Regions from separate parts of the Homo sapiens genome. Here regions 1, 2 and 4 are each linked to region 3. The links come from fine-mapping of genetic effects on plasma protein levels. A gene starts in region 3. Each other region holds a variant in brackets. All regions are shown on one strand. Distances are from middle to middle.

Evidence for each region. PIP is the chance, under the fine-mapping model, that this variant and not a neighbour inherited with it causes the effect. Protein levels are from antibody-based Olink assays in UK Biobank. Linkage for the fine-mapping came from a reference panel and not from the study's own genotypes, which makes the PIPs less certain.
Region 1: its variant is fine-mapped to the plasma level of the ACY1 protein (UK Biobank, PIP above 0.99).
Region 2: its variant is fine-mapped to the plasma level of the ACY1 protein (UK Biobank, PIP above 0.99).
Region 4: its variant is fine-mapped to the plasma level of the ACY1 protein (UK Biobank, PIP above 0.99).

What each region holds. Positions count from the first base shown.
Region 1 is chr3:50,689,878-50,698,015 of GRCh38, forward strand. The region is part of intron 1 of DOCK3 (dedicator of cytokinesis 3); the gene reads left to right. Among named protein-coding and RNA genes, the nearest start is that of MIR4787, 19 kb to the left of the region's middle. The variant C/T (reference allele first, on the strand shown) is at 4,669.
Region 2 is chr3:52,124,689-52,132,826 of GRCh38, forward strand. It overlaps POC1A (POC1 centriolar protein A), which reads right to left. Exons shown (of 11, transcript NM_015426.5): 8 at 425-493. Among named protein-coding and RNA genes, the nearest start is that of POC1A, 26 kb to the right of the region's middle. The variant T/C (reference allele first, on the strand shown) is at 4,899.
Region 3 is chr3:51,979,502-51,987,003 of GRCh38, forward strand. It overlaps ACY1 (aminoacylase 1), which reads left to right and starts at 4,034. Exons shown (of 15, transcript NM_000666.3): 1 at 4,034-4,088; 2 at 4,546-4,657; 3 at 5,706-5,770; 4 at 5,860-5,964; 5 at 6,351-6,445; 6 at 6,754-6,830; 7 at 6,914-7,003; 8 at 7,104-7,160; 9 at 7,487-7,502. The coding sequence starts at 4,564. ABHD14A-ACY1 (ABHD14A-ACY1 readthrough) reads left to right here. Exons shown (of 17, transcript NM_001316331.2): 4 at 4,546-4,657; 5 at 5,706-5,770; 6 at 5,860-5,964; 7 at 6,351-6,445; 8 at 6,754-6,830; 9 at 6,914-7,003; 10 at 7,104-7,160; 11 at 7,487-7,502. It overlaps ABHD14A (abhydrolase domain containing 14A), which reads left to right. Exons shown (of 5, transcript NM_015407.5): 4 at 892-1,127; 5 at 1,335-1,695. The coding sequence ends at 1,517. RefSeq lists an enhancer at 1,664-2,165 and a silencer at 3,619-4,068.
Region 4 is chr3:47,328,603-47,336,740 of GRCh38, forward strand. It overlaps KLHL18 (kelch like family member 18), which reads left to right. Exons shown (of 10, transcript NM_025010.5): 4 at 1,349-1,547; 5 at 4,555-4,715; 6 at 6,081-6,217; 7 at 7,933-8,138. Among named protein-coding and RNA genes, the nearest start is that of PTPN23, 48 kb to the right of the region's middle. The variant G/A (reference allele first, on the strand shown) is at 4,596.

The sequences.
Region 1 (8,138 bases), 1.3 Mb before region 3:
ATCAGATAGGTGACTTGGAAATATTTCTCCCATTCTGTGGTTGTCTTTTCACTCACTTGGTGGTGTCTCTAGATGTACAAAAATTTTAAATTTTGATGAAGTCCAATTTATCTGTTTTTTTTCTTTTGTTTGTACTTGTGGTGTCATGCTACGAAACTGTTGCCAAAGTCAGGATCATGAAGCTTTTCCCCTATGGTTGTTTATAATTTATTTTTATTGTGGCAAAACGTACGTAACATAAAATTTGCTATTTTTACCTTTTTTTTTTTTTTTGGAGACAAGGTCTTGCTCTCTCTCCCAGGCTGGAGTGCAGTGATGCAGTTATAGTTCACTGTAGTCTCAAACTCTTGGGCTCAAGTGATCCTCTGCCTCAGCCTCACCAGTAGCTAGTACTATAGGCATGTGCCACCATGCCTGGCTGATTTTTTAAATTTTTTGTATGGATGGGGTCTTGCCATGTTGCCTAGGCTGGTCTCAAACCCTTGGCCTCAAGAGACCCTTCTACCTTGGCCTCCCAGAAAGCTGGAGTTACAGGCATGAGCCATTGTGCCCTGCCCATTTTGAAGTATATAGTTCCATGGCATTAAGTATGTTCACATTGTTGTGTAACTGTCATCCACTGTCTATCTCTGGAATTTTTTCGTCATCCCATACTGAAATTCTACACCAGTTAAATGAAAACTCTTTATTCCCCCTCACCCCCAACCCCTGGCAACTACTGTTCTACATTCATTCATTCGTTCGTTCGTTCATTCATTCATTCATTCATTCATTCATTATTTTGAGACAGAATCTCGCTGTGTTGCCCAGGCTGGAGTGCAGTGGTGTGATCTCGGCTCACTGCAACCTCTGCCTCCTGGGTTCAAGTGATTCTCCTGCCTCAGCCTCCCGAGTAGCTGGGACTACAGGCAGGCACCACCATGCCTGGCTAATTTTTGTATTCTTAGTAGAGATGGGGTTTCACTATGTTCGCCAAGCTGGTCTCAAACTCCTGACTTCGTGATCCACCCACCTCGGCTTCCCAAAGTGCTGGGATTACATGTATGAGCCACTGTGCCTGGCCTCTACTTCCTATCTCCGTGATTTTGACTATTCTAGATAACTCATATAAATGTAATCATATGGCCGGGCGCGGTGGCTCATGCCTGTAATCCCAGCACTTTGGGAGGCTGAGGCAGGTGGATCACGAGGTCAGGAGATCGAGACCATCCTGGCTAACACGGTGAAACCTCGTCTCTACTAAAAATACAAAAAAAATTAGCCAGGTGTGGTGGCGGGCACCTGTAGTCCCAGCTACTTGGGAGGCTGAGGCAGGAGAATGGAATGAAACCAGGAGGCGGAGCTTGCAGTGAGCCGAGATCGCATCACTGCACTCCAGCCTGGGTGACAGAGCGAGACTCTGTCTCAAAAAAAAAAAAAAAAAAGTAATCATACAATGTTTGTCCTTTTGTGTCTGGCATATTTCACTTAGCATGAGGTCTTCAGGGTTTATCCATGGTGTAGTCTATGTTAGAACTTCGTTCCTTCTTATGTCTGAATGATGTTTCAGTGTATGGGTATACCACATTTTGTTTATTCCTTCTTCTGCTGATGGACACTTGGGTTGTTTCTACCTTTTAGCTATTGTAAATAATGCTGCAGTGAACACTGGCATGCTAGTACTTGTTAAGCTCCCTGTTTTCTATTTCTTTGGGTATATACCAAGAAGTGGAATTGCTGAACAATATGATAATTCTGTCTTTAGTGTTTTTAGGAGCTAGTGTACTGTTTTCTGTAGTGGCTGTGCTATACATTCCCACCAGCAGTGCACAAGGATTCTAGTTCCTCTGCATCCTCCCCAATACTTGTTGTTTTCTGATTTTTGATCATAGCCTTTCAAATAGATGTGAAGTGGTGTCTCATTGTGGTTTTGATTTGTATTTCCCTAATGATTAGTGATGTTGAGAATCTTCTCATGTGCTTATTGGCCATTTGTATGTCTTTTTTGGAAAAATGTCTGTTCGAATCCTTTGCCCATTTTAAAAGTCAATCTAAAAAGTTTTTTTTTTTTTTTTTTGAGACAGAGTCTTGCTCTGTCGCCAGGCTGGAGTGCAGTGGCACGATCATAGCTCACTGCAGTTTCAAACTCCTGAGCTCAGGGGATTCTCCCACCTCAGCCTCCTGGGTAGCTGGGACTACAGCTGTGTGCCACTGTGCCTAGCTAATTTATTTTTTATTTTTTAGAGGTAATAGTCTTGCTATGTTGCCCAGACTGGTTTTGAACTTCTATCTTCTAGAGATCCTCCTGCCTCGGGGTTCCAAAACATTGAGATTACAGGCATGAGCCACTGTGCCTGGCCTCAATTTTGTTTTTGTTTTTGTTTTTGTTGTTGAAGTGTAGGAGTTCTTTATATCAGCAGTCTTCAACATTTTTGGCACCAGGGACTGGTTTCGTGGAAGACAATTTTTCCATGGACCGCAGAAGGGATGGTTTTGGGATGAAACTCTTCCACCTCAAGATCATCAGGTATTAGATTCTCATAAGGAGCGTGCAACCTAGATCCTTCACATGCACAGTTCACAATAGGGTTCATACTCCTATGAGAATCTAATGCCACTGCTGATCTGACTGGAGGCAGAGCTCAGGAGATAATGCTTGTTCACCCACTGCTCACCTTGTGCTTTTGCGGCTTGGTTCTTAACAGGCCACAGATTGATATTAATTTGTGGCCCAGGGGTTAGGGACCCCTGCTTTATATATTCTGGATATTAATTTCTTATCAGATATATGGTTTGCAAATATTTTCTCTTATTCTGTAGCTGTTTGCCTTTTCACTGTGTTGATGGTGTCCTTCGATGCATGAAAGTTTTAAGTTTGATGAAGCTGATTTATCTTTTTTTGTTTTTTTTGTTGCCTGTGTCTTTGGTGACATATCTAAGAAATTATGGACAAATCCAGTGTCATGAACCTTTCCCTGTATGTTTTCTTCTAAGAGTTTTTTAACTTTAGATTTTATGTTTAAGGCTTTGATCCATTTTGAGTCAATTTTCGTATGTGTTATTACAAGGGTCCAATTTTATTCTTTGTGGATATCCAGTTTTCCCAGCACCATTTGTTGAAGAGACTGTCCTTTTCTCATTAAATGGTCTTGGCACCATGGTCGAGTATCATTTGACAATATATGTGAGGGTTTATTCTGGGCTCTGTATTCTGTTTCATTGGTCTATATAGTTCTGTCTTTATGCCAGTATCACACTGTTTTGATACTGTAGGTTTGTACTAAGTTTAAAAGTCAGAAGTGTGAGTCCTCCAACTTTGTTCTAATTTTCCAGATTATTTTTGCTATTAGAGGGCCCTTGAGATTCCATATGAATTTCAGGATGAATTTTTAAATATTTCTGCAAAGAATACAGTTGGGATTTTGGTAGGGACTGAATTGAATCTGTAGATTGCTTTGGGCAGGATTGTCATCTTAACAATGTTAAGTCTTCCAATCAGTTAACATAGGCTATCTTTATTTAGGTCTTTAATTTCTTTTGGCAGTGTTTTGTAATTTTCAATATACAAATTTTTCATTTTTTGGTTAAATTTATACCTAAGCATTGTATTTCTTGATGCTAGTATAAGTGGAATTGTTTTCTTCCTTTTCATATTGTTCATTAATTTCCTTTCCTTTTTTTTTTTTTTTTTTTTTTTAAGACAGAGTCTCACTCTGTCGCCCAGGCTAGTGTGCAGTGGCATGATCTCGGCTCACTGCAACCTCTACCTCCTGTGTTCAAGCCATTCTCATGCCTCAGCCTCCCAGGTAGCTGGGACTGCAGGCACCTGCCACCACACCTGGCTAGTTTTTTGTATTTTTGGTAGAGATGGGGTTTCACCATGTTGGCCAGGCTATTTTCAAACTCCTGACCTCAGGTGATCCTCCCACCTTGGCCTCCCAAAGTGCTGGGATTACAGGTGTGAGCCACCGCACCTGGCCTTCCTTTTCATATCATTCTCATGTTGTTCGTATACAGAAATACAACTGGTTTTTGCATGTTGATTTTATGTCCTGCAACTGCTGAATTCATTTATTAGCTCTAATAGGCCTTAAACAAATACTTTAAGGTTTGCTACATACAAAATTGTTGGCCAAGTGTGGTGGCTCACGCCTGTAATCCCAGCACTTTGGGAGTCTGAGGCAGGAGGATCACCTGAGGTCAGGAGTTTCAGACCAGCCTGGCCAACATGGCAAAACCCTGTCTCTACTAAAAATACAAAAAATTAGCCAGGCGTGGTGGCGGGCGCCTGTAATCCCAGCTACTGGGGAGGCTGAGGCATGAGAATCGCTTGAACCCAGGAGGTGGAGGTTGCAGTGAGCTGAGATTGCGCCACTGCACACCAGCCTGGGGGATAGAGCGAGACTTTGTCTCCAAAAAAACTAAAAAAAAAATAAAAATAAAAAGAATGGTAAGAGTTTCTAATACTTAGAGGCAGATATCCTTAAAAATGGAGATTTCCTTTATAGATTTAGATTTCTTTTACAAAAGAGTTTCAGGATAGCCAATTAAATTCCAGAAAAGTGTATTTTAGTTCAATAGGGTATTCTTTTTAACATAGCTACTGTTTCTTAGCTAAAATTACTGAGTTCAGAGTAATGGGTGGAGCGCATTAAAGAATGGGGCCAACAGGCTGGGTGCAGTGGCTCA[C/T]GCCTGTAATCCCAGCACTTTGGGAGGCCAAAGCGGGCAGATCACTTAAGGCCAGGAGTTTGAGACTAGCCTTGCCTGCATGGTGAAACTCTGTCTCTACTAAAAAAATACAAAAATTTGCTGGGCGTGGTGGTGCATGCCTGTAATCCCAGCTACTTGGGAGGCTGAGGTATGAGAATCACTTGAACCGGGGAGGTGGAGGTTACAGTGAGGCTGAGATCACTCCACTGCACTCCAGCCTGGGCGGCAGAGCCAGACTCTGTCTCAAAACAAACAAACAAAAAAACAAATGAAAAACAAAAAAACAAACAAAAAGAACTCAGTATAAATAGATCTGAAAAAGAAGCAAGCCTATTTTACTTGAGGGCCTACCTTCATAAATACCTTATATAGGATAGCTTTCTTTTTCCCTTTGGGGCAGGCTAGTAACTAAGCCGAAAGGTTAGCAGATTTAATTTTGTTTTAAATCAATTAGTCACTTAAGGTTTTTATTTGCCTTTGATAACGTCTTTAGATAAAAATAATGCAATCTTTTTAGAAGCTTCTACATATCAGTAGGCATCCCTAGATAAGACTAATTTGGGAGCCCCCAATCACATGCACTTCTGTTCAGTGTTGTTCATTCGGATAAGCACTGTAACTTATCTTTAGTAAGATTTCACCATTTCTGTAAGACTTTGCTGCCTCCAGGGCTTAATACTTATGCATGTATAAGCCAGAAGGAACTCAGTTCTTCACAAATTAAGGAGCCTGTTTTTACCTCAAATACTGGCTTTGCTCTCAGGTTCCCCTGATCAACTTAGCTAGTGATTTTTTTTCTATCTAAGTGCACAAGAAAAATGAAACAAAGAGGGTAGAATGCACAAATCCCTGTGAATTTCCAAAAGCCAAATTTTATACCCCCTCCAATATTGCCATTTACTACTGGTTTCTTTCTGACCCAGTCAGATGTAAGAGGCCTCTAACTGGATCCAGCCCAATTAATATCAGATGTAATCTGATCCTAGACCTAGTCCAGTTTCTGTCATGACCTCCAAACCCAGTTTGGATCAGAAATTTGCTCAAAGAGACTCAAAGAGCGCTAAGCACAAATCTGTGGAACTTTGGAATGCGAGAGAGAACTTTCCACAATCCTCAGCTGTTCTGAGAGAGGAATGGACACAATGGGCCTGGTGGGTATCTCGCTTGGTCACTCAGTGCTCCTGGGGGTCGCTAGAAGCTCTACTTCGGATCCCACTTCTGACACCATCTGTTAAAAGAAAAACTTCAGCTGAATTCAATTTAAAAGACTGTAATTGAGCAAAGAATGATTCACAAATTGGGCAGCCTTCTGAGCCAGAGTAGGCTCAGTGACTCCAGCACAGCCATGTGGTAGAGGAGGATTTATGGACAGAAAAAGGAAAGTGATGTACAGAAAATGAAGTGAGGTACAGAAATAGCCAGATTGGTTATAGCCTGGGGTTTGTCTTACTTGAACACGGTTTGAACAGAATCAGGTCCTTAAGGCATCAAGACCTCTGTGTCTCCATTTGATATCTCTGTGTCTATGTGTTGCATTCTTTCTTGCAGTCATTAACTTTTAAAAATTTACTCCTTTTATAATTGGGGACCATAGCTCCTACAGTTCTGGGTACATGTTTACACAGCATGATGGAATAGGAAAGAGCTGTTTCCAGTCAGAAAAACTTCAGGGAATGAATGGTATGGCCCAATCTACTTCATATGCCCAGTTATTGAAGGGGTCCGATTGACAGCCCCACTGAAATCACTAGAGTGGGGGAGTTTTTGTAAAAGGTGAGAGTTAAGGATGCTGGACACAGAACAGTAAGGAGATAAGACTACCTGATGCACATCGAGTTCACAAAGGTATTGTAAATGTCAAACATGTACAATGGATAGAAGTAGGATGTGCTGTAGGAGTTCAGAGCCTGGGGGCGTGCAAGGCAATATCCCTAAGAGTGAAAGTAGAACTGAGTGTTGATGAGTGAATAGGATTTTGTGAGTGAAGAAGAAGCATGAGAGCAAATTCAGGTCACAGGGGACAGTAAGGCATGAAAGATTTGTGCAAGGTGTTTTGGGAGGACCATGTTATTTGCAGCTACCATCTTCCCTTTAATTTAGTGATACTTTTTTGGGGGTGGGGTGGGGTAGGTGTCAATTCCATTTTGAAGATCTGTTAAGTGCTATGGGAAACCCGCATATGCACAAGTAAAATTTTACTAGTCGTGTCAGAATGTTTATGGACTTCTTGTTGCTTGTCTTTGGACTCAGGTTAAGAATCTCTACTTTAAACATTTCAACTTGTCTTTTTTCTCTACATTGTGTGTATACTTTTTAAAGCCTACCTTTAAAGCTCCTGATTTTCTGACACATAGCACTGAATTTTTTTTTTTTTTTTTAAGAGAGAGTCTCACTAACTCTGTTGCTCAGGCTGGCATGCAGTGGCGCTATGTAGGCTCACTGTAACCTCCACCTCCTGGGTTAAAGCAATCCTCCCCCTTCAGCCTCCCGAGTAGCTGGGATTACAGATGTGCACCACCATGCCTGGCTAATTTTTGTATTTTTAGTAGAGACAGGGTGTCACCATGTTGGCCAGGCTGGTCTCAAATTCCTGACCTCAAGTGATCCACCCGCCTCAGCCTCCCAAAGTGCTGGAATTATAGGCGTGAGCCACTGTGCCTGCCCATAGCACTGAATGCTAGTTTCAGAATTTATTTCTGTCGTTTACTTAATTGAAATGAAGAGTTTAAAGGAAAATGCAAGTCTGGGCATGGTGACTCATGCCTGTAATCCCAGCATTTTGGGAGGCCGAGGTGGGTGGATCACCTGAAGTCAGGAGTTCGAGGCCAGCCTGGCCAAAATGGTGAAACCCCGTCTTTACTAAAAATACAAAAAATTAGCTGGGTGTGGTGGCGGGTGCCTGTAATCCCAGCTACTTGGGAGGCTGAGGCAGGAGAATCACCTAAGCCCAGGAGGCGGAGGTTGCAGTGAGCCGAGATCGTGCCACTGCACTCCAGCCTGGGCAATAAGAGCAAAACTCCGTCTCAAAAACAAACCAACCAACCAACAAACCAACCCCAAAAATGAGCCGGGCACAACCTTAGCCTCTAGAAGATTGCTTTTGTGTCTTGTTTTGCCATTTCTTCTTTTATTATTGTTATGGACTCATGGGTTTTTGTTTATTCAGTGTGACTCAGCTCATCATTATGATTATAATTCTCAAATTATTCTAATGCTTTTAAATTTCTTCTGTGATGGTTTCCTGTGACTGGAGAGACACCTGTTTTTGTCTGCTGCTTTGTTGTGATAATTGATTATATTTGGTCTTAGGTCCTAAAGTCTGTGCTATTTTAATTTTTTTGAGGTAAAAATCAGTTATATAAAATTTATTCTCATAGTAAGTTTTCTTCCATGATGTTTATCATCTTTTGCTTACTATTTTTCTTTTTTTATCTTTTAAAAATAGCAGG
Region 2 (8,138 bases), 150 kb after region 3:
GGAGATGTCACGAGAATTAAATGAGGTATGAAGCTCTTGTCACATTGGCCATATTCCCAGGCCTAAAGTAAGATCATATTAATAATAATCATTATCTATTTATTTGGAATCAGGAAAATAACTAAAAAACCAACTTTTCACGACAACCATAGCCCAGCCTCCTTCCACTAAGCGCTAGCCTGAGCAGTGAGGATTCTGAGATGCAGCCATGAGGTCGGCACCTGCAGGAGGCCCATTCTGGAGTGGCAAGGCCCCTGGATCTGGGCAACCCCACCCCAAGCGCCATCAGGGCCTTTTTAGTCGCTGAAAGCCACCAAGGAAGCTGGCGAAACCCAGCCCATCCCCCAAACACCCTGTTTGGTTCTGAGCAGAAATCAGCTCAGATTCCCTTCTTCACCATTCCATTCGACTACTCTTTACTTACTTGTTCATCAGAGCCTCCAGAAGCAAAATACTCCCCCGTTCTTGAAAAGGCAACAGTGGTGGCTGGTCCCTGGCAGAACAAACAAAAAATAACACACATCAAAGGTCATTCTCCATTCTAAATGCACAGGAAGAAAACGAGACGTTCTTGAATGAAAGCAGCAGCAGGATAAAGGACCGAGAGCCCACTCAGCCCACAGTCCTCCGTAACCTGTAGCCCAGGAGCCTGCCTGCAGCCAGGTGCAAGCACCACCGCTCAGGCTTCTGTTCCTGAGCACTACAACAGGGACAAGTCCAGGCTATGAGAATGTGGGTGACAGAGATGAGTGAATGGGACAGTCTGCACTGGCAGCCCTCCAGGGCTGGCCTCATTGTCCCCACTTTCCCAGTAAGAAACCACAGGTCAGAGAGATGCACTGAGTCACCCCAGCCACAGCACTGAGACCAGAACTTGGTCCCTTTGACCCAGACCAACCCTAACACCCAACATCTCCCCAACACTGCACAGTTGCTGACCAGAGAAATAGGGATCTCCAAGGAAGAGCCAATGGCTCAAGCAGACAGGGCATAGTTCAAGGCACAGGTGACAGGAAGGAGGTTTCCAAAGGTGCTTGGGCAGCAGAGCAATGTGACACGTCTCTCTAATGTGCATTCACTTTTCTTATGTTCAGGCCATGGGTAGTGATGTGCCCACTCTGGCTTCCCAGATGTTGAAGGTCTGCGTGACCATCTGAAGGGGAATGCCAGGCACACGCCAGGCCGCACTCCAAGGGCTGGAGAGCAGTCCAGGGCGGGGGAGATGGGGGATGCATGATCTCCTAGCAAAGGAGGGTTCTTCCCCACATACCTAAAATCCATCCCAGAAAGGTGCTCAGAGTAAGGATCTGTTTAGCTACGACACCATGACCACAGCCACCACCATCTCTTCCTCCCAGTCGAACTTTTACTGTGGCCAGTACCTGGTATTCCCAAGCAAAATCAGATAAAAGAGGTTCTCTCCTAGAAGACAGCACAGCCACTGTCACCAAGTCCACCTCAGTCCCCCCAGACCAGTGCAGGGAGCGGCAAGAGCCCCAACTGCCCATGAGATGGGCTCTGGCAGCACATCTACAGCTGACTCATCAATGAGAGGAACATTGGGAGGCGCCTTCCACTTAATGCCAGAAAAGACCAGCCAAGTTCTGGGAGGGAAAAGGGACCTCGAGGCCATGGAGGAAGGCAGCTTTTGTCTCCCAGAGAGACAGGCAGGTTGAGAGGTGCCATTCAGCCTCAGACACACTGGACAGCAGGGAGTATGCCCACCCATGCTTCCAGAGTCCACCTTCGGCTCTTCCTCTCAGAGGTGCTCATAACACCTCTGACGAAAAAAGCAAGTACAACACTGGTGAACACCGAGCACTCAGGCGCTCAGAGCACAGCACCTGCATTTACCCACTGAATCCTGAAAGGACAGTCTGTGCGGTGACCCTTTGCCTTAGTCCACTTCTGTTGCTATAATGGAATATCTGAGACTAAGTAATTCATAATGAGCAGAAATGTATTGGCTCACAGTTCCAGAGGCTGGGAAGTCCAAGATCGGGGGCCAGCATCTGGCAAGGGCCTTCTTGCTGAGTCATCCCACGGCAGAAGGGCAAAGAGAGGGTGACAAAGAAAAGCGGGCCAAAGTCATCCTTTTATAAGAAACCCACCCCATGGTAACAAACCCACTCCTGCAAGAATGGCATTAATTCATATATATGGGCATGGCCTCAGGACCCAAACATCTCCCATTATGCCCCACCTCCCAACAACCCACACTGGGGATCAAGTTTCTAATACATGAACTTTGGGGAACACATTCTAATCACACTACCCTTCCTAAGGGTGCCATGTCCAAGTGCAGGGAACAAAGCCTGAGAGGACACAAAGACAAAGCCTCTGGCCTACACTTGCCCTCCTGCCTTCTTCACACAGGTAGAGCTGCAAGGGCCCAGGAATGCCCCACTCCCAGCAGCCCTGGGAATCCTAAGCCACCATTAACCAGGATAATATAGATCCACTTTTACTAACAGAGAAACAATGCCCAATAACATCAGTGAGGGTGAAATCCCAAGTGTAAGACATCACGGGCTGTGTGGCCCCTGCTCATGCAGGGCCTGACTGCAGGATGAGGGCAGGGCATCCATCACTCAGATACCCTTTCAGGTGGACAGTCACCAAGGGGTTAACAGAGGGGTGTGAGGTAATTTCAGGTAACTTTTACTTGATTCTTAGAAATTTTTCATTTTTCCGTTACTTTGAACCTTTTTTTTTTTTTTGAGGCAGAGTCTCGCTCTGTTGCCCGGGCTGGAGTGCAGTGGTGCGATCTTGGCTCACAGCAAGCTCCGCCTCCTGGGTTCACGCCATTCTCCTGCCTCAGCCTCCCGAGTAGCTGGGATTACAGGTGCCCGCCACCACGCCCAGCTAAATTTTTTTTGTATTTTTAGTAGAGATGGGGTTTCACTGTGTTAGCCAGGATGGTCTCGATCTCCTGACCCCATGATCTGCCCGTCTCGGCCTCCCAAAGTGCTGGGATTATAGATGTGGGCCACTGCACCCAGTCACAAACCTTTTTTTTTTTTTTGAGACAAAGTCTGGCTCTATCGCCCAGGCTGGAGAGCAATGGTACAGTCTTGGCTCACTGCAACCTCTGCCTCCTGGGTTCAAGCGATTCCTGTGCCTCAGCCTCCCAAGTAGCTGAGGTTGCAGGCACCCTCCACCACACCCGGCTAATTTTTATATTTTTAGTAGAGACGGGGTTTCGCCATGTTGGCCAGGCTGGTCTTGAACTCCTGGCCTCAAGTGATCCACCCTCCTCAGCCTCCTAAAATGCTAAGATTACAGGCATGAGCCACCGCACCTGGCCTACTTTGAATTTTTTAATAATGAATATATGGCATTGCTACACTAATACGAACACCAAACAACAAAACTACTTTCATTGTGAGGAAAAACAAAGAGGAAACAGAGAAAAGAGAAGGAAACCAGTACATGGAATGTCAAAAAAGATGGGCCTTTTGCCTGCCCAGAGCTCACTGAGTGATGGCAGGTTTCCAAGAAGTCACAGCAACTAAGGGAAAAATACTTGCAGGTCACTCTCCTTTCATGTCATGACTCAACCACCAGAGGCCAAGTTGGGAAAAGGTGGTGGAGTCAGAGCAGCAGCAACAGCAGCAGAACCAACAAAACACTCAGCTCAGCAGGGGTCAGGACCAGAGCGCAGGCACTGGGAGCCCTGCAGATAAGAAGTGCTAGCGCTCCTTTACGAGACCAAACCCCAGGAAGTTCCAGGGATGAAGCGAGTGATAAGCTGTGTGGATCTGCAGTCCTCCCTAACAGTGCCTGTTTACCAAGAGGACCACGCAGCCCCTGCTCCAGGTACCTTCCACGAAGGCTCCTGTTCTTCTGCCTAGCAGCCCAGGGCACTCAGAGGACAGCACAGAGAACACCTGGGCTCTGCTGTGGGCCAAAGCCAACATGTACTGTAGAAGAGACTGTCCACTGCTGACATGCTTCAGGGCCTAGCCTTGGAGGCCCCAGATTACTTCGGCCCCTGCTAACTTTCCAGGCTCTCTCCTCCCTGCCCTAGTGCTCCTCAAACACCATGATCTAGACAGAAAAGGTCCTCTCTTTCTCTATATTCTTTCTGCTGTCACCTGCATTGAGTTCTTAATTCAGGTATTTTCAATTTTTTTGGTTTTATATAAATCAATTTAAGGCTACAAATTTGCCTCTGATGACACCTTCAATAGATCCTGGAAGTTTCCAGTATGCAACATTTTCAGTCATTCACTTCCAAATGTTTAGTTTCCACTGTGATTTCCCCTTCAGCCCATTGGTTGTTTGAGAGTGCATTCTAGAATTTCCAGGCTGGGCATGGTGGCTCACACCTGTAATCCCAGTACTTTGGAAGGCTGAGGCGGGAGGATCATTTGAGGTCAGGAGTTCGAGACCAATCTGGTCAACATGGCGAAACCCCATCTCTACTAAAACTACAAAATTAGCCAGGGGCGGTGGCACACACCTGTAATCCCAGCTACTCGAGAGGCTGAGGCAGGAGAATCGCTTAAACCCAGGAGGTGGAGGTTGCAGTGAGCCGAGATCATGTCATTGCACTCCACCCTGGGCGACAGAGCGAGACTCTGTCTCAAAAATAAATAAAATAAAATAAAGTTTCCAAACCATAGGTGCTTGAAGAGTCTCTTCTTACCATTGCCAGCAGCCAGATATGATACATGTTTTTGGAGACTGTTCTACCCTCATGATGGCTTATTCCTTTTATTTAATCAATCACTCTTCATGCATCAGGGTATCCACTTGGGGCAGGGATATTGCCAAGTCCATCCTCTCCAAAGGCAAGACCTGTCTCTGGGTGTCTCTGCACACCCCTGAGGATTCCTCTGAGCAGCGGCTCCTGGCTGGGCCTTCAGCAGTGTGGATGCCGGCCTGCCCCCAGC[T/C]ACCAGAGGTACCCACCTGTGGGAAGCCCTGGTCTCCCTCTGACTCCAGGCCAGGTCCATTAGCAGGGATGCCTCACAGGCTCAATAAGGGCCTCCCTCCCTCCCTTGAAAGACCAGGCAGAATCTTCAGGGAGATGGTCCTGCTTAACCAGTCATGAACCCAGACACAGCCTGGCCTCCCTGCTACTCTACCTGCTAACCGGGCCATATCTGGCCCTGGAGCTTGGCTGGATCCACACCCAGTCATTTTACCACACATCATCTTCTGTTGCCAATTTCCAGACCTAAAAAGGACCCACATTGCCTGGTTTCTTCAAACAACAAAGTATCAACAGAGAAAGATTTTTTTTTAAGGCAAAACAAGGGAGCCCATGGTGATTAGATTTCACAGTCGTGCTGGCTCTCGCTCTGCTGCTCCGGCAGCTCACACTGACCTCGCTGCTCTCCTCATCCTCCTCACCTTCTCCCGCCTGACTCTCAGAGGCCCCTGTATGCCTGAACTCTGACTGCATGCCCACAACAGCTATGCTGGCAAACCCACCACCACCTCTCACGCGTTGCAAAATATTTTGTGTTGACTCTCATATGCACAGTCTTCCAGTGAACAAATAGGATTGTCACACCACATGCCCCTCAGTCAGAGGGAAAAGCAGAGTGGCCATCACACAGAGAATGGGACTGAGGAGGCCCAACAGGCCTCTGGGGTGAGTGCTGTGGTCTCCAGCCCCTGTGCTCAGACAGAGAGACAACAATCCAACCCACTGGGATGCTTCTTCCAGAGCCCCACCAGGAGGCTCCTGCACTCACTTACCAGGGTCTGCTGTGAACTGGGCTCTCATGGCTGAGTGGGGCCCATAGGAGGCCATCATAACTCCACAGACGGGGAGTGACCTCCTGACCCTGGCCGAAGACACCTGCTCCCAGCCCTCAACTCTGGGCTGCTGGCAGGGGACAGAGGGCCAGGCCAACTTCTTAGTTTCTTAGTGTGAAATAAATGAGCCGTTCTCTCTCTGCATGTCCTCTCACCTCTCACAGGAGGTGCCCGACCACCCAAGCCAGGTGTGACCCTCCTGAGCATCAAAACAGTCCTCCAAAATGCCTAGACAGGAGCTACAGAGCTCTCACAGAAACAAGGGAGGGGTGGCCCACTCCCAGAGCTGCCCTCCACCTGGGGTGGACAGAGGGATGGCCCACTGGCCCAGCCACTGTCACACAGTCGCCTCCCCTGCTTGAAGGTGCATCCCCTTTGCTGCTGCTATCCCAACCTCAACCTAGGGCCCAGCATGGCGCAAGCACCCCATAAGCATCAGTGGGTCTCCTACTCTGAGCCTGCAAGTTCCCACCAACTAAGTCTCAAAGCATAGCCCTGAGCACAGACAGCAGCGCCTGTGCAGGTCTGGGTCCAGGGCAGGGGCTGCTCACCCACACGGGGTCGGGGGGAGGGTGGCGGGGGCGCATGGCACCGTGTGCAGCTCAGTCACTCTACAGCGACATGCACACCAACTGCACAGCCACAAATACCAGATTTAACTCCCCACCCACAACCCGCCCACCATCCTCTCCCAAATAGCTCTAGAGAACTTAAACCAAGTAAGTGTGGCTCAAGATTATGTTTCAGAAAATACAGAAAGATAAATCTGTATTTCTAGCACACTGCCCCCCACGCTTGCCACACATGGGGCTGTGAGGGCCTCACACGGGGCCTGAGGCTCTGAACAACCGTGGTAGTTGGTAGGGAAGCCCTTCCCTCTCCTGACCAGTGTTCCCTTCTATAAAATGAGGGGGTGAGATGGGATCATGAGCCTCCATTGCAGCTCTGACAACCCAAGTCTGTATGACATCCAGTGAGAGGCAGGGACTCCCTTTCCTCCTGCTTAACGTCACAGTTGTGTCACACCCCCTGACCAAGACTTTCCAGAGCCTCAAATAGGGCACTGGCACCAGTGCCACCACGCGGGTCTCCTGATCCACCAGCCATCCTCCAGGAGTCAGGCCCTTGAGATGACTGGAAGGACAGGCCTGACAAAGGGCAGTGCACATGGACATGTACACCAAGGCACCCGGCAAAGCAAACCCACGAGGGCAGCTGGTGGGGACACGAGTCTGGGTCGGGGAGTCTCCCCAGCCCCCAACCAGGGGACAGATTCCATGAGCTGTGTGACAAGAGAAGCCAAAGCAAAATGTTCTGGGGGAGACAACAACCCTAAGCAAAAGTAAAAGGCAGATGAACCCCTGAGAGATTCCGAAGGTGCACAGGAGAGGAAACGCGCGCCTCCAACCCTGGGGCAGAGGCCACAGCCCCATGCCAGAAATGGGGTGGCTAAGGCACCAGACACCCCCATGGACCCGTTTTTCTAACAAATGGACTGCCCACCCACTCAGCATCACCAGGACCATGTCCACAACAGAAACTTCTAATGCCCTTTTAAAGAGCTCTCACCTAAAACGGCATGACATCATTTTCCATGAGCTCAAGTGGAAAGGGATTAATATCTATGAGGACCTACTGTGTCCGGTGCTGGGAAATTTAGACACATCCTCTCCTACCATGAGGCAGACAATGGGATGTCAGTCTCACAGATAAGAAAAGAGACTCAGCAAAGTCAAGGTCTTGCCCAATGTCACATAAAAAGAGGCAACACTGGAATCATCTGACCCAGTGCCCAAGCCCATTCCTCCTCCCCTCCTGAAGCTCAGGCTGTTTCAGATGAACAAGATGGGAGAGGACCCATGGTTTTTCAAAACCAGAAATGGGTGGGTACAAACTGTTTGTTCCTAAAAATACTGGGGTTTTCCTGAGAAAGCTAAGTATCATCCCCCACCAGACAAGGCTGTGTAACCTCCCCAGCTGAACATATCCCAGCACTTGGCCTCAATCAAAGATGTTTGCAAAGGTGACCCATACAGGCTCTGGTGTTCCCAGGGCAAAGGCTGTGGAAGGAGGGCAATGCACCATAACCTGCAGGCAGCACCTCCCACATCTGTCCACTCTCCTCTCAGGATGGGCAGATTTGAGAGGCAGAGGGCCCTTTATCACCCAGAGTCCCCAAGCCAGGACTGCAGGAGAGAAGCACCAGAATTCTTCAGGGCCACAATAAACTTGTAACCAACATCCACCCCTGCTATGGTGTGAATGTTTTTGTCCCCAACAAAATTGATACTGAAATTGAATCCCCAGCCAGGCGTGGTGGCTCACGCCTGTAATCCCAGCACTTTGGGAGACCAAGGAAGGCAGATCAC
Region 3 (7,502 bases):
TGAGACAGAGCCTCGCTCTGTCACCCTGGCTGGAGTGCAGTGGCTCGTACTCGGCTCACTGCAACCTCCGCCTTCTGGGTTCAAGCGATTCTCCTGCCTCAGTCTCCTGAGTAGCTGGGATTACAGGTGCGCCCCACCATGCCTGGCTAATTTTTGTATTTTTAGTAGAGACAGGGTTTCACCATGTTGGTCAGGCTGGTCTCAAACTCCTGACCTCATGATCCGCCACCTCGGCCTCCCAAAGTGCTGGGATTACAGGCATGAGCCACCGCGCCCAGCTGCCAGGACATGCATTTTTAAATTTAGATAACTACTATCTCACCCTCCAAAAACACTATATGGATTTATCTTCCCATCTGTCATGTATGAAAGTGCCCATTTCCCCATGTCTCCCCCAACACTGGGTATTATTTATTTTTTATTTTATTTTATTTTTTTTTTAGACAGAGTCTCGCAGTCGCCCAGGCTAGAGTGCAGTGGCATGATCTCGGCTCACTGCAGGCTCCGCCCCCCGGGGTTCATGCCATTCTCCTGCCTCAGCCTCCTGCGTAGCTGGGACTACAGGTGCCCGCCACCTCGCCTGGCTAATTTTTTGTATTTTTAGTAGAGACGGAGTTTCACCGTGTTAGCCAGGATGGTCTCGATCTCCTAACCTCGTGATCTGCCCGCCTCGGCCTCCCAAAGTGCTGGGATTACAGGCGTGAGCCACCACTCTCGGCCAAGATATGCTTTTCTAACAGGCATATTACATTACCAGAAAATAGCTTCTGGGCAGTTTTAGGTAGTGTGTGCCAGTGCCAGTGGTCCCCAACTTTTTCCCCCACTGTGGTGGGCAGGAAGTCCTGTGCCCCTTCCCAGTGCCCCTCAGCTGGTACCTGCTGCTGTTCCTAGGTTTTGGGAACTCGGCACCTTCAAAGGAGGCAAGCACAGAGGCAGGGCGGGCAGCGCTGCTGGAGCGGGCGCTGCGGGACCTGGAGGTACAGAATGCCGTGTTGGTGAGCCCCTCGCTGAGTGGCCACTATGCCCTGCCCTTCCTGATGCGAGGCCACCACCAGCTACATGGATTTGTGCCCATCGCACCCACCTCCACCCAGAACTACACCCAGGAGCAATTCTGGGCTGTGAAGGTACTGGGAGAAGGATCTCAAAGGTCCTGGCACCCTGTCTGTGGCTTGGGGGGGTTCAGGACTCAAGTCTTACTTGGAGGGACATGGCCTTATCCCTGACCTTGGATGGAAGAGTTGGATGGTGTTGGGGAAGGCTTCCTAGGAAGTGGCTTGGGGGTCAGAAACTCATCAGGCCCCAAGATCACAGCCCCCTGCCTTGCCCTGCAGACTCCAACCCTTATCCTGTATGGAGAGCTGGACCACATCCTGGCTCGAGAGTCACTGCGGCAGCTCCGCCACCTGCCCAACCACTCTGTGGTGAAGCTACGCAATGCAGGCCATGCCTGTTACCTCCACAAGCCGCAAGACTTCCACCTTGTCCTGCTTGCCTTCCTTGACCATCTACCTTGAACTAACCCACTCCCAGCTCCCAGCCTGGCATGAGCTTGGACAGTCTGGACCGCCACCCTCCCTGAACCAGGGAGACAGCCTCTGGGATTGGAGGCCAGAGGCCAGGGTCAGACCCAGCCAGGACTCCTCATTTCATCTCACAGACACAATAAAAAAGCATATTTGTCCTGCCTGGGAAGTGACAGGTTCCGTTTCCTGGTGTGCTGTGGGAAAGACGGGAGTGGGAGGCAAGTCTGGGACTACTTTGGGCCTGGGAGCTGGAGGGGATGTCCAGCAGTCTGAGAAGGCTAAGAATGCGCCACTTCCTAAGTGCCTGGCCTCACCACTCTGTGCCTGAGTTTCCTTATCTGTAAAACGGGTATGATGGCAACACCTAGGTTGGAGGGTGGTTATAGGACTGAATGAGTCTGGATAACTGAGTACTTGGCCACATAAGGCTGGGGAATTGCTGGTGGGAGGCGGGGTGTATTACTGCTGCTGCATGACCACAGGGATTGGTGGGAAATCCAGGGTCTGGACAGCCAAGCCAAGGAAGTCAGGAACCTAGAGGGTATGGGGAACGCGATTTAACAATTAGCCAGCATTGGCCGGGCGCAGTGGCTCACACCTGTAATCCCAGCACTTTGGGAGGCCGAGGCAGGCGGATCACGAGGTCAGGAGATCGAGACCATCCTGACTAACACGGTGAAAACCCGTCTCTACTAAAAATACAAAAAATTAGCCGAGCGTGGTGGCGGGTGACTTTAGTCCCAGCTACTCAGTAGGCTGAGGCAGGAGAATGGTGTGAACCCGGGAGGCGGAGCTTGCAGTGAGCCAAGACCGAGATCACACCACTGCACTCCACCCTGGGTGACAAAGCGAGTGAGACTCCGTCTCAAAAAAAAAAAAAAAAAAAAAAAAAAAAAAAAAAAAAAAAACCAGCATTAGCTGGGCACTGTGGCTCACATCTGTAATCCCAGCACCTTGGGAGGCCAAGGCGGGTGGATCACCTGAGGTCAGGAGTTCAAGACCACCCTGGCCAACATGACAAACCCTGTCTCTACTAAAAATACAAAAATTAGCCCAGCGTGGTGGCACGCACCTGTAATCCCAGCTACTCTGGAGGCTGAGGCAGGAGAATCACTTGAACCCAGGAGGCGGAGTTTTCAGCGAGCCGAGAAGGAGCCACTGCACTCCAGCCTGGGCAGCAGAGTGAGACTCCATCTCAAAAAAATAAATAGCTAAATAATTAGCCAGCATTGTTATGAGTTAAAGTCTATTTGCCCGCATGAATAAATAGGTAAATAATTAGCCAGCATTGTTGTGAGTTAAAATCTATTTGCCCGCATGACAGAGTGAGACTCTGTATCAAAAAAATAACTAAATAAAGAATTATCCAGCATTGTTATGAGTTAAAGTCCATTTGCCCCCATGTTATGTGTGAGCAGCCAAGACTTAAACCTCAGGAAAGGTGGGACAGAACCCTTCCCACAGCGTGCCTCCTTGGCCTAGAGATTGAAGTCTTTGTCCCTCACCCTTCCCCAAGCTGACTCAGCCCCTGGAGCAGAGGGCAGACCTGGCTGGGAGTACAAAGGGCAGCTGGGGCACAAGTGGGCAACTGCAGCTGTGGCCTGCAGGGGGCCAGTGGTACACCTGTGCCTGTTTAGCCTCCCCCTCTGGTGGCTGCAGAAGAGCCAGTTTCCTCACACTGTCCATCCAGGGTCACAATTACATCCATTCACAGTGACTTCATCACACCCACCCACCATCTCACACTGTCACATACACAATCATATCCACTGATAGACTGCACACGCAGTGGCACGCTTAAACCGTCACACGTGCTCTTGTCCATGCATTCATTCCCATTCTAGGCACTGTCCGGGCTCGGCACGGCCCCGGGCAGAACCTTGCAGGAAGTGGAGCTCACAGCCTCCTGGAGTTCAGTGTGGGCAGACAGACATTGGCCAATAACTTCAGTACAAGTGGAGCTGAGGCGTCAGGGAGGACCTCCCCGAGGGGCTGAGGCCTGCAGTGGGGAGCCGTTGGAGACTTGCCGAGGAGGGCGAGGGCGCAGGCCCAGGGCTTTGCAGCTCTGCATCTTGAGAGCCTCGGGGCGGCCCCCTTTCCTCCCGCCCTATCCGGGGGCTGAAGGAGGAGGCGCCCTTAGGGGACGGGACCGTCCTGAGCTCCCGGCGCATACCTGGGGGCAGGAGTGGCAGGCGTGTCGTGTGGGGCGGGGCGAGCCTGTCAGAGCAGGGCCAGCCCGGAGCTCGCAACTCGCGGGGCGGCGCTGGCCGCGGCGGCCGCTGCCCGGGGACGGGATCCGGATCTAATCCTCCAGTAATCTCGCTGAGGCCCGAACCAGAGGCGGGCGGGGACATCCGCGCCGACGCGGCCGCTGGCGCCGGGACGGCCCTCACTGACGGTCTTCGGTCTCCGCCCCGACATCCGGCCTCGGCCACGTGGTGGGCGGACCGGGGCGGTCCTGAGCCTGCGACCTCGCAGGCGACCTCGCTGGACCCTAAGTCCAGGCCACAGTCAGGGAAGGGCGCTGAGAGGCGAGCGTGAGCCCAGCGACAGGAGAGTGAGGTGGGGGCCCTGGGGAGGGATAGAGGGACTGGGGCTCCGTGGCTTGAAAGCCGGGCAACTGGGAGGCGTTGGGGTTTTTCTTGTTTGTTTTTTGTTTTTGTTTTTGCCTTTTTTTTTTTTTAGGAGGGCGGGGGGAGTACAAGTCTGGGTTCAAACCTTGCTCAGCTACTCTATGAGCTGTCCTTGAACCTCTCTGAGCCTCTCAGCTTTCTCCTCTGTAAAGTGGGCATTCTGAGCACAAACTTCATGGGGCTCTTTTGGGGATTAAATAAGGAAATGTGCTGGAAGCAGACAGCCCAGCGCCTGAAACAGAATGGGTGCTCCTTAATGGGGGCTCCGAAACACGGTATCCTACCCCTGTGGGAAGTCCGGGAGCCGCCGTGGGGACAGGCTGTGTGCAGGAGCTCACCATTTCCAGGGTCTTGGAGGGGTAGTTAGCCATTCACTTTGCCCCCAGCTCACCACGCGCAGCGCCATGACCAGCAAGGGTCCCGAGGAGGAGCACCCATCGGTGACGCTCTTCCGCCAGTACCTGCGTATCCGCACTGTCCAGCCCAAGCCTGACTATGGTGAGAAGACGGTGGTTCCAGAGCCTGTGACGGGGCCTAAGGGACGGGGACTGTGCTCTAAACCAGCCTCCAACCCCTGTCACCCAGCTGAGCCCCACTCTGCTGTCCCAAATGGCTCCCCAACCCCTCCAGCCATTCCCCAAGTAAATAGACTGAGGCAGCCCCTCCAGGTTAGGGAGGAACCCTTTCCCCAGAGACTCTGCTGCTGACCAAGGTTACTCCTGGCAGCTGGTTAAAGAAAAACTTCACCTCACTCTCCAGGGCAGGAGTGGTGGGGGAAGCCTGAGGCAGCCACAGGGAAAGGAGAGGCCCTCCAGAAGCCCACTGGGGCTGGACAAAGGCCACAGCCCTTAGGGAGTCAAGCTTGGTGGCTAGGGCCTGGGAGGTGGCTCCTGCCTGTTATCCCAGCACTTCAGGAGGTTGAGGCTGGCAGATTGCTTGGGCCCAGGAGTTCAAGACTAGCTTGAGCAACATGGCAAGACTCTGTCTCTACAGAAAAAATACAAAAATTAGTCAGGAATGGTGGCACACCTGTAGTCCCAGCTACTCCAGAGGTTGAGGTGGGAGGATCGCTTGAGCCTGGGAGGTTGAGGCTGCAGTGAGCCGAGATCGCACCACTTCACTCCTGCCTTGGTGACAGAGTGAGACCCTGTCTCAAAAAAAAAAAAAAAAAAAGGAAAAGAAAAAAAAAAAACTTAGTGGCTGGGAATTGTGTACATGGGTCCAAATTCCTCCTCTGTGATTAATCAGCTGAGAGATGGTGGGTGAATCTCTTCATGTCTCTGTGCCATAGTTTCCCATATTTAAGGAAGATAACACCTTCCTCCAACCCTGTGTCCAGACATCCCCCTGGACTTCCAGAAAGGGTCACTGAGTAGCCAAAAATATCTTCTTTCTTGGGGATGGAAATGCAAGCATCTCTGAGGGATATGGAGTGTGTCGGGGAGGCAGCAGCCCATTTCTGGGTATGCTCCACTCTCCGGGCTGCCTGGGCTGGTGGGAAGCTGTGGGTAGGCAGAAGCAGCCCCAAGACACTCTGTGCCTCCAGGAGCTGCTGTGGCTTTCTTTGAGGAGACAGCCCGCCAGCTGGGCCTGGGCTGTCAGAAAGTAGAGGTGAGCCTGGGGCCCTAAGCGGGGAAGGGAGGTGGGCCTGGGCACTTCCTCACCCTGCTCAGACCACCTACCCTCCTGACCATCTCCAGGTGGCACCTGGCTATGTGGTGACCGTGTTGACCTGGCCAGGCACCAACCCTACACTCTCCTCCATCTTGCTCAACTCCCACACGGATGTGGTGCCTGTCTTCAAGGTGTGTAAGGGGCTGGGGAGGTGGGCAGTGCAGGCCTTGGGGACAGACATGATGCAGACCCCAGGATTCAACCTCAAGTTGCTCATGGTCCTGGCCCCAGTCCTGACACTAACTCTCAACATCCTTATGACATTACACCACTCAAGCAGCCTTCATCCAGCAGCAAGTTCTGGGCCAGAGTGGGGTGGGGACTGGGGGGTGGGAAGCAGGAGACAGCAATGGGGGATGGCAATCAGCTGCCTTCTTCAGCCCCCGTCTTTCCTCTCCCACCACTCCACCTGTCACTCCAACCCTATGGTGGGCTCCTAGGGCAGGGCCACTGTTGACCAGAGTGGATTAATGGCTAAATTTGGGGTTTGGGCCCCTCTTCCCATCCCTGCCCCCAGGAACATTGGAGTCACGACCCCTTTGAGGCCTTCAAGGATTCTGAGGGCTACATCTATGCCAGGGGTGCCCAGGACATGAAGTGCGTCAGCATCCAGTGAGTGTCCTCCATTCCTACTCCTCCACAATGTCCCCACTGGTCCAGTGGATTGAAGCAGGACCTGAGGGGGTGATTGGAGAAACTCAAGGCCAAGGAACACCGTGACCTCTTGGACAGGAACTACTGCCATGACCATTGCATGGATAGGGAGATTCAGACCAGAGAGGGGCAGGGACTTTCTGGAGTCCCTATCAGGGTGTGGCAGGGTAAAGTCCAGGACACAGGACTCCAGCCTGCTGGCCCTGCCTGTGGGGCCAGCCTGCGCATCTGGTGGCTCCCCCAGCACCTGGCTTATGCCCCCTCAGGTACCTGGAAGCTGTGAGGAGGCTGAAGGTGGAGGGCCACCGGTTCCCCAGAACCATCCACATGACCTTTGTGCCTGGTAGGAGTGGCTCAGATACCTTTGGGAAAGGGGAGGGTGGGGCGGGGCAGCCTCCTCATCTCACGTCCCTGCTGCTTTTACAGATGAGGAGGTTGGGGGTCACCAAGGCATGGAGCTGTTCGTGCAGCGGCCTGAGTTCCACGCCCTGAGGGCAGGCTTTGCCCTGGATGAGGGTGAGCAGGTTGGCAAGCCAATGAGCAGCCAGGCAGGGAGTAGGAGGCTGCTAGTGGGGACTGAGCTGCTCCACCCTCTGAACCCCCTTTCCCTCCTCAGGCATAGCCAATCCCACTGATGCCTTCACTGTCTTTTATAGTGAGCGGAGTCCCTGGTGTAAGTATGAGCTTGGAGGGAGGGCTCACTCTACAGGCGGGAGGCTAGGCCAGAAAGGGCACGGTCCTATGCAGGGTTGCACAGCAAAGTTGAGGCCTGAGAAGGCCTTGAACCCAGGGCCTCTACCTCCCAGCTCTTTCCTATCTGAGCTTCTCTGAGGGCAAGCCCTGAATGGGCAGAAACCAGCTGTATGCTACGGGCCCTGAGTGGGGACAGGACCCTGCCAGAGGAGCCTGGAATGAGGGGGAGACCTGGGCCCACCCCAGGCTGATTGTGTCTCCAGCCCCTCAGGCTGAAGACACTGCCTTCCCCCTACACCTCCCCAGGGGTGCGGGTTACCAG
Region 4 (8,138 bases), 4.7 Mb before region 3:
GGGAATGTGCACAAGAGTCCTGATTTCAATCTCAGCACCACCACTTGCTTATCTCAAGGGACTGTGAGCACCATTTTTGGTTTCCCTGAGCCTGTTTTCCATCTGTGAGTGCGTTACTACTTTACAGGTTAAGAAGATTCTGGAGAATGTGTATAAAAGGCCTAGCAAAACACTTGACTCACTGATGGTAAATAAATGATAGCTGCTGCTGTTGTTTCTGCTTGTCTGAACAATTAGGCCCGTGGAGTCTCTTTCTATCTAAAACAAGAAAAAATCTCAGCATTTTGGGAGGCCGAGGCAGGTGGGTTGCTGGAGTTCAGGAGTTCAAACCTGCCTGGACAACATGGTGAATCCCTGTCTCTACCACAAAAAGTACAAAAATTAGCCAGGCATGGTGGCACCTGTAGTCCCAGCTACTTGCAGGGCTGAGGCAGGAGGATCGCTTGAGCCCAGGAAGTCAAGGGTGATGTGAGCCGTGTTCACGCTACTGCACTCCAGCCTGGGGGACAAAGTGAGACCCTGTCTCAAAAAAGAAAAAAAAGGAAAAAAAAAGACAAGTATAAGAGTTCCCATACTAAAGAAGCCATCTGTCCGTGTTGTGTTTTTTTTGTTGTTGTTTTGTTTGTTTTTTGTTTTTTGTTTTGAGACGGAGTCTTGCTCTGTCGCCCAGGCTGGAGTGCAGTGGCGCAGTCTCGGCTCACTGCAAGCTCCGCCTCCTGGGTTCACAGCATTCTCCTGCCTCAGCCTCCCAAGTAGCTGGGACTACAGGCGCCCGCCACCACACCCGGCTAATTTTTTGTATTTTTAGTAGAGACGGGGTTTCACCGTGTCAGCCAGGATGGTCTTGATCTCGTGACCTCGTGATCTGCCTGCCTCAGCCTCCCAAAGTGCTGGGATTACAGGCGTGAGCCACCGTGTCCAGCCCTGTCTGTGTTTTTTAAACTCTAATTCTGTGACTTCAGTGCCTTCCTTGTGACCAAAGTTGAGATAATGCCCTGGACACTCAACCAGGAATTTCAGTGGTGGAACGTCTCAAACAGATTTTCAGTGCCTGCACTCCTGTGATGGTTACTTCTCACCTTCTGACAGTTACTTTACAGAACTACCCAGAGAGCTCATTCCACCTGACGCACAGAGCACCAGGCCCAAAAGGCAGGGACCTTTGAGGATAATCTTTCTTCTTAATTTTATACCTTTAGAAGTTGAGTCCCAGAGAAATACAGTTTCCAACAAAGCTGAGGTTAAGAATTTGTTTTCATTCTGTGGCTCTACCCAGAACCAGCCTGAGAATGATCAAAGATAACATCCTTTCTTCCTCTAATTTTTTTTTTCTTTCCTTATGCCAAAGGCTTCACCCAAAAAACTGCCTGGGTGTGCGCCAGTTTGCTGAGACAATGATGTGTGCTGTGCTGTACGACGCTGCCAACAGCTTCATCCACCAGCACTTTGTGGAGGTGTCCATGTCAGAAGAGTTCCTGGCCCTGCCCTTGGAAGACGTGCTTGAGCTGGTGTCTCGGGATGAGCTGAATGTCAAATCTGAGGAGCAGGTATGTGAGCCCAGTAGCAGTCTGTGCAGGTGACATGAGATGCTGCTCTTTATAGTCATTGTTTTGTTTATGTATTTTTTTACAAAGTTAAGATCATGACATGTATGTGGCTGTTGTATATTATTGGGCTTGTTTTACTGTATCATGCATTTTTCATGAAAACTTTCTATGTTTTATTTATTTTTTTGAGATAATATCTTGCTCTGTCACCTAGGCTGGAGTGCAGTAGCAAGATCATAGCTTACTGCAGCCTCATCCTCCCACATCAGCCTCCCGAGTAGCTGGAACTACAGGCACATACCACCACACCCAGCTAGTTTTTGTATTTTTTGTAGAGACCGGGTTTCACCATGTTGCCCAGGCTAGTCTTGAACTACTGTCCTTAAGTGAGTTCAGCCTCCCAAAGTGCTGGGATTATAGGCGTGAGCCACCGCACCTGGCCTCCATACATTTTAGTGTCTAAATAGCATTCTGTTGATTTTTGTCAACCTACTCACCTTATTCTTGCATGTTTGGGTTATTTCCAATATTTACTATTAGAAATAATCCTCCTGTGAACCAGAAACAGCAAGCATAGATAATTTTTTTGTTGTTTTTTTGAGTCAGAGTCTCATTCTGTCACCCAAGCTGGAGTGCAGTGGTGCGATCTTGGCTCACTGCAACCTCCATCTCCCAGGTTCAAGCAATTCTCCCGCATCAACCTCCTTGAGTAGCTGGGATTACAGGCATGCACCACCATGCCAGGCTAATTTTTATACTTTCAGTAGAGACGGGGTTTCACCATGTTGGCGAGGCTGGTCTCGAATTCCTGACCTCAAGTGACCCGCCCATCTTGGCCTCCCAAAGTGCTGGGTTTACAGGCGTGAGCCACTGTGCCCGGCCTAGTATAGATAACTTTTTGAAAGAATCTTGTTCTAAGGAAGAACAGAACATTGGGGCAGCTGTGGGAGGGGTCTGTGAAATCAAGAGGGGTTGTTGTTTGTTTGTTTTTGAGAAAGAATCTTGCTCCAACGCCCAGGCAGGCTGGAGTGCAGTGGCAACAATCTCAGCTCACTGCACCTCTGCCTCCCGGGTTCAAGCAATTCTCCTGCTTCAGCCTCCCAAGTAGCTGGGATTACAGGTGCCCGCTACCATGCCTGGCTAATTTTTATATTTTTAGTAGAGATGGGGTTTCACCACGTTGGCCAGGCTGGTCTTGAACTCTGGCCTCACATGATCCTCTCACCTTGGCCTCCCAAAGTGCTGGGATTATAAGCATGAGCCATCATGCCAGGCCTTTTTTTTTTTTTTTTTTTTTTTGTGAGACAGAGTCTCACTCTGTCACCCAGGCTGGAGTGCGATGGCACAATCTCAGCTCACTGCAGCCTCAGCCTCCCAGGTTCAAGCATTTCTCCTGCCTCAGCTTCCCAAGTAGCTGGGATTACAGGTGTGCGCCATCATGCCTGGCTAACTTTTGTATTTTTAGTAGAGACGGGGTTTCACTATGTTGGCCAGGCTGTTCTCGAACTCCTGACCTCAGATGATCTGCCCACCTCGGCCTCCCAAAGTGCTGGGATTACAGGCGTGAGCCACTGCGCCAGGCCCGACCTTTTTTTTTTTTTTTTAAAGTGAGAGAAATTACAGCATATTTGACTGCTGTTGGGAGTTTTCCAGAAGAGAGGGAAGAATTGATAATATTGGAGAAATGGGAGAGCAGTTGTTGGAATGATGTTCTGGAATAAGTGAGGACAGTCTAGGGCATAAGGGTGTGCATCTTTGATAGGAGCACAAGCCATCCATATCCACAGTAGCAGGAGGGAGAGCTGGGGCACACGCCCAGGGACGGGGGACAGGTAGATTCTTACTGAAATTCTCTTCTGATTTTCTATTTTCTCACCTGAGAGTGAGGATGAGGGACGAAGGTTAGAAACTTAAGGAAGGCCGGGAGCAGTGGCTCACGCCTGTAATCCCAGCACTTTGGGAGGCCAAGGTGGGCAGATTTGTTGAGCTCAGGAGTTTGAGACCAGCCTGGGCAACATGGCAAAACCCCATCTCTACTAAAAGCACAGAAGTTAGCCAGGCCTGGTCCAGCTTAAACTCCTGGCCTGTAATCCCAGCTACTTGGGCTGAGGTGGGAGGATTGCTTGAGCTGGGAGGCAGAGGTTGAGGTGAGCTGAGATTGCGCCACTGCACTCCAGCCTGGGCGATGGGGCAAGACCCTATCTCCAAAAAAAAAGAAAGAAAGAAAGAAAAGAAAAAAGAAATTTGAGGAGGGATTAAAAGGTATGATTTATTTTCCTCTTTCCTCTAGAAAAGGGGGATGCTAGAGAGGTGAAGCGGGCTTGATAGGAGCCTGGGAGAAAAGTGGATCCTGGGCTTGGCAGCATAGACACTGTGGTTTCGAGGAAAAAGCCTCATTCCAAAAACTAGGTGTCCTGTCCCTAGCTCTTAAACTAATTAATATGACGGGGGGCGGGGGGGCAGCTCACATTTCTTTGAGTGATACATTTCATAAGGGCTGTAGGGCTTTAGAGGGAGAGGTCCTTGTGGTTGGAGCCATTAAGAAAGGCTCCTTGGAGAACATGGATCTAGAGCCAGGCCTTAAAAATAGGGGAGTGGGTTTAGATGAAGAGGAGGAGATGAGGGCATTTTAGATGAGGGGGGACAGTGTAAACAGGAGAACCAGCCCAGCCTTGCCGGAGTACAGAGAGGGTGATGGAGGGAGTTTAGAGGGAGCAGGGGTACAGGAGCAGCGGGAAGGGAAACAGGCATTTTGTTTTCACAGAAAGTAATAAGATGCCATTGATGATTTTTCACTAGGAAATCATAATCATAATGAAATTCAGGAAGCTGTTCTAGTAGCCTAGGAAGTAGAGAGAAATCAGGGATTTCAGAGACAAGTAGGAGAAAAGATTGATGGGCCCAAGGGACTGCTTCAGTATAGGAAGTGGAGGCATTGAGATTGGAGGCCTGGGGTGTGGCCTCTGGGTGGGAGGATTTGCTGCCAGAACATCCACTCTCATGACAGGTCTTTGAAGCTGCATTGGCCTGGGTCAGATACGACCGGGA[G/A]CAGAGGGGTCCCTACCTGCCTGAGCTGCTGTCCAATATCCGCCTGCCCCTCTGTCGGCCCCAGTTCCTTTCAGACAGAGTACAGCAGGATGACCTGGTGCGTTGCTGCCACAAATGCAGGTGAGTGAGGGTGGACCTGCACAGGACACTGCCAAAGGTCTAAGCAGGGAAGAGGAGTTGGCCACCTGTTCCAGTTCTGGAAAGAAAGCATTTAGAGTGATCAGTCTAATTCATGGCACACAGATTGGTCTGCCCTCTGTCTAGAAGCTGGAACAGGAAGTGTGAAGAGCCCGAATCTTATGCCTTGGGCAGAGAGATGTGCCATGTGGGAGCATCAAAGCAGAAAGGGCTTTCCCCTGCTGAGTTATCTGAGGATTTTCCAGCATCTTTCCCCACTGAGCTATTTATGAATGTGCAACCATCTTTACTGCCTGCTCTGACCCTGTCCACACCAGCAGCTCACTCAGTGGCGCAAATGGGACTTCCTGGGGCTCATTGCCCTCTTCAGTAAATATTAGTCAGTGCTGTGGGCATGGAGGGCCTCTGCCAGGTGTAGGCTTTACATCTACGATGATGGGCAAGGGGCAGACATGTTTACCAACACATGAAACTTTTACCCAGAGCAAATCAATGACAACATGGTACAGCAGAGTTACCCAAACAGTTCAGAAGATGGCAGCCCTATAGGATGATTGCTGTAAAAGTAGAACAGCAGAGAAAAATGTTCATTCTCCTCCAGATTGCTTATCAAATTCACAACCCTGAAATATTTTTTTCTCCTTTGCTGATAAAAACTTTACACACATTCAGCTTTCTTTCATTTTCCAACTCCTGGTTGGGATCAGCTGGTTCAGGAGGAAGTAAGTGCCTGTCCATGGCAGATGGTGTGAAGGTGTGTGTCAGGATGGGGTGGAGTAGTGTCTGGAGGTAGCTAGGGCCCAGTGACCAGCGGTCTCAAGGGTGCTGTTGAGGAGTTTGGACTTTATTCTGTCGGCAGTGGGTGGCTATTGAAGGTTCTTAGCTTGAACTCTAGTGTGGAAGTGGAATGGAGGGGCAGGCCTGAGGCAGGGAAATGTGTCAGGAGCTGCCACCGTGGAGATGAGTGGTGATTAATTGCAGGTTGCAAGCCACGGTGCAGTCGTAGGGATGGAAAGGAAGGGCTAGGTCTGAGTGGCAACAGGGTGCATGCTGCTTGTCGAAACTCCCAGGTCCAGCCATTTTGGCCACTACCTTGTTTTTCTCATGCCTAATCTACACTAGCTGAGGTGGTCTTTGCTTGTCTTGCCCCTTTAATTTTGAGTATATCTCAGTAGCCATGTATGATTTTCCCAGAACTCACCTGGTTTCTTTGAGACCAGACCTTCCAGAAGGCTTCTCCTCCCAGGTTTCCCCTGCAGTTGGCAGTGGAGAGCCAGGCTCAGAGATGCAAACGAGGACTAAGTCAGGGGGATACCTCCTGTTCTAGCATCTTCCACCTTATTCTAGGGACCTGGTAGACGAAGCAAAGGACTACCACCTCATGCCAGAGCGCCGGCCCCACCTGCCAGCTTTCAGAACCCGGCCACGCTGCTGCACATCCATCGCTGGACTTATCTACGCTGTAGGGGGCCTCAACTCAGCAGGTACCTTGCGGCTCCCCTTTATAGACCCTCCTCTTGGACTCCATGGATGAGGAAGCACCAGACAAATTAGCCTGGCCCTTCTGGTTTCTCTGTTTTGTACTGTCACCACCCTTGCCCCTCTTGATTTTATACAATTGCTCTACAGTTAGAGCATGTCACATATTCATGCCATTGAATCAGAATATCAGTGCTAAAGAGACCTTCTAGAAATCTTTGAGGCCTAGCCTTCTTACCTGACAAGTGAGGAAATTGAGCCCCACAGAACTTTCACTATGTTCATACAATTGTTTTTGGCAGAGCAAGGACTAGAACTTGGGTGTTCTGATTCCTGAGCCAGCACTTTTGCCCTAATATCACATTGGCTATGGTATAGCATCCTTCAGCCCCGGATAGGATACAGTCAGAGACCCAGTTCCATACCAGGCTATTCACATTTTGTCATATGGATCTCTGGGGTTAGACTGAGAAAGTCCCCAAGAGAAAGATTATCCAAATACACAGGGTCTACCACTGTCAATAATACTTTTTACTCTTCAGCCCCACCCCCTGTGAAACACACACATGCTTTACAGTCCGTGGGTTATTGGCAGTTTTTGAATCTAAGAGTAAGGTTTTCAGAAAGCTGCATGGCCTCCCAACTTGGGGGCAGTTGGTGGGCACTCCCAGGCAGTTTTGTTTTTATTTTTTATTGTTTTTAATTTTTTTGAGATGGAGTGTCACTCTTGTCACTCAGGCTGGAGTGCAGTGGCGCAATCTCAGCTCACTGCAACCTCTGCCTCCCGGGTTCAAGCAATTCTCCCGCCTTAGCCTCCTGAGTAGCTGAGACTACAAGCTCATGCTACCACGCCCAGCTAATTTTTCTATTTTTAGTAGAGATGGGGTTTCACCATGTTGGCCAGGCTGGTTTTGAGTTCCTGACCTCAAGTGATCTGCCCACCTTGGCCTCCCAAAGTGCTGGGATTACAGGTGTGAGCCACCGCACCTGGCCCAGTTTTGTTTTTAATTGAAGGTTAATGAGAGTTGGGTACTAGCTGCTGCTTGTTAATCAGAGGGCCTGGAACAGGTAAATCCTCAACTCAGTGCACGCTGGAGCGGCGTGCAAATGAAATGCTAAGTGCCCCATAGCAGCATACCACAGGAAGAGGGGGTTATTTTGTTTGATCATCACAAAAACCTGATGAAAAAGGTAGGGCTGGAATGATCATTCCTTGCTACTATGACTATTTATTGAGCGCAAAGTTTATTCTAGAACCATGCTAGGTGCTTTACCTGTTATATCATTTAATCCATAAAGATTATCTCCATTTCACATGTGAAGCAGAGGGTGGGGACACAAAGCCCCTTGCCTTGGGTCACCCCCTAGCAAATGAAAGCACTGGAGCGCATGCCCGTCCCTCTGGCATGCCTCCTGCCTGGAGGAAATATTGTATCGATTCACCTATACCTTTGGCTTTAAGCAGGTGGAGTACCTGATTGTAACTGAAAACTACCCTCTCTAAAAAATAAATACCTCCTGTCTGATTCTGATTTTCCTTAAAGAATTAGGTTTGAGGTGATCATGGCTGAAATTTCTTAGTGGGCCCTTGTGCCTTGAGTAATTCTGTGGGAAGAGCTAATAGAATTGAGTCGAATGTTCCATATAATCAATGCCCAATAGCTGTGCTCTAAACAAGTGGTCTCATTTGTTTTAATTTGAGTAGCAAATTTTTATGCAGGTGATTCCCTGAATGTGGTGGAAGTGTTCGACCCCATTGCCAATTGCTGGGAGAGATGCCGTCCCATGACAACAGCCCGCAGCCGCGTTGGCGTGGCTGTGGTGAACGGGCTTCTCTATGCCATCGGAGGATATGACGGCCAGCTACGGCTGAGCACTGTGGAGGCCTACAACCCGGAGACAGACACATGGACCAGAGTGGGGAGC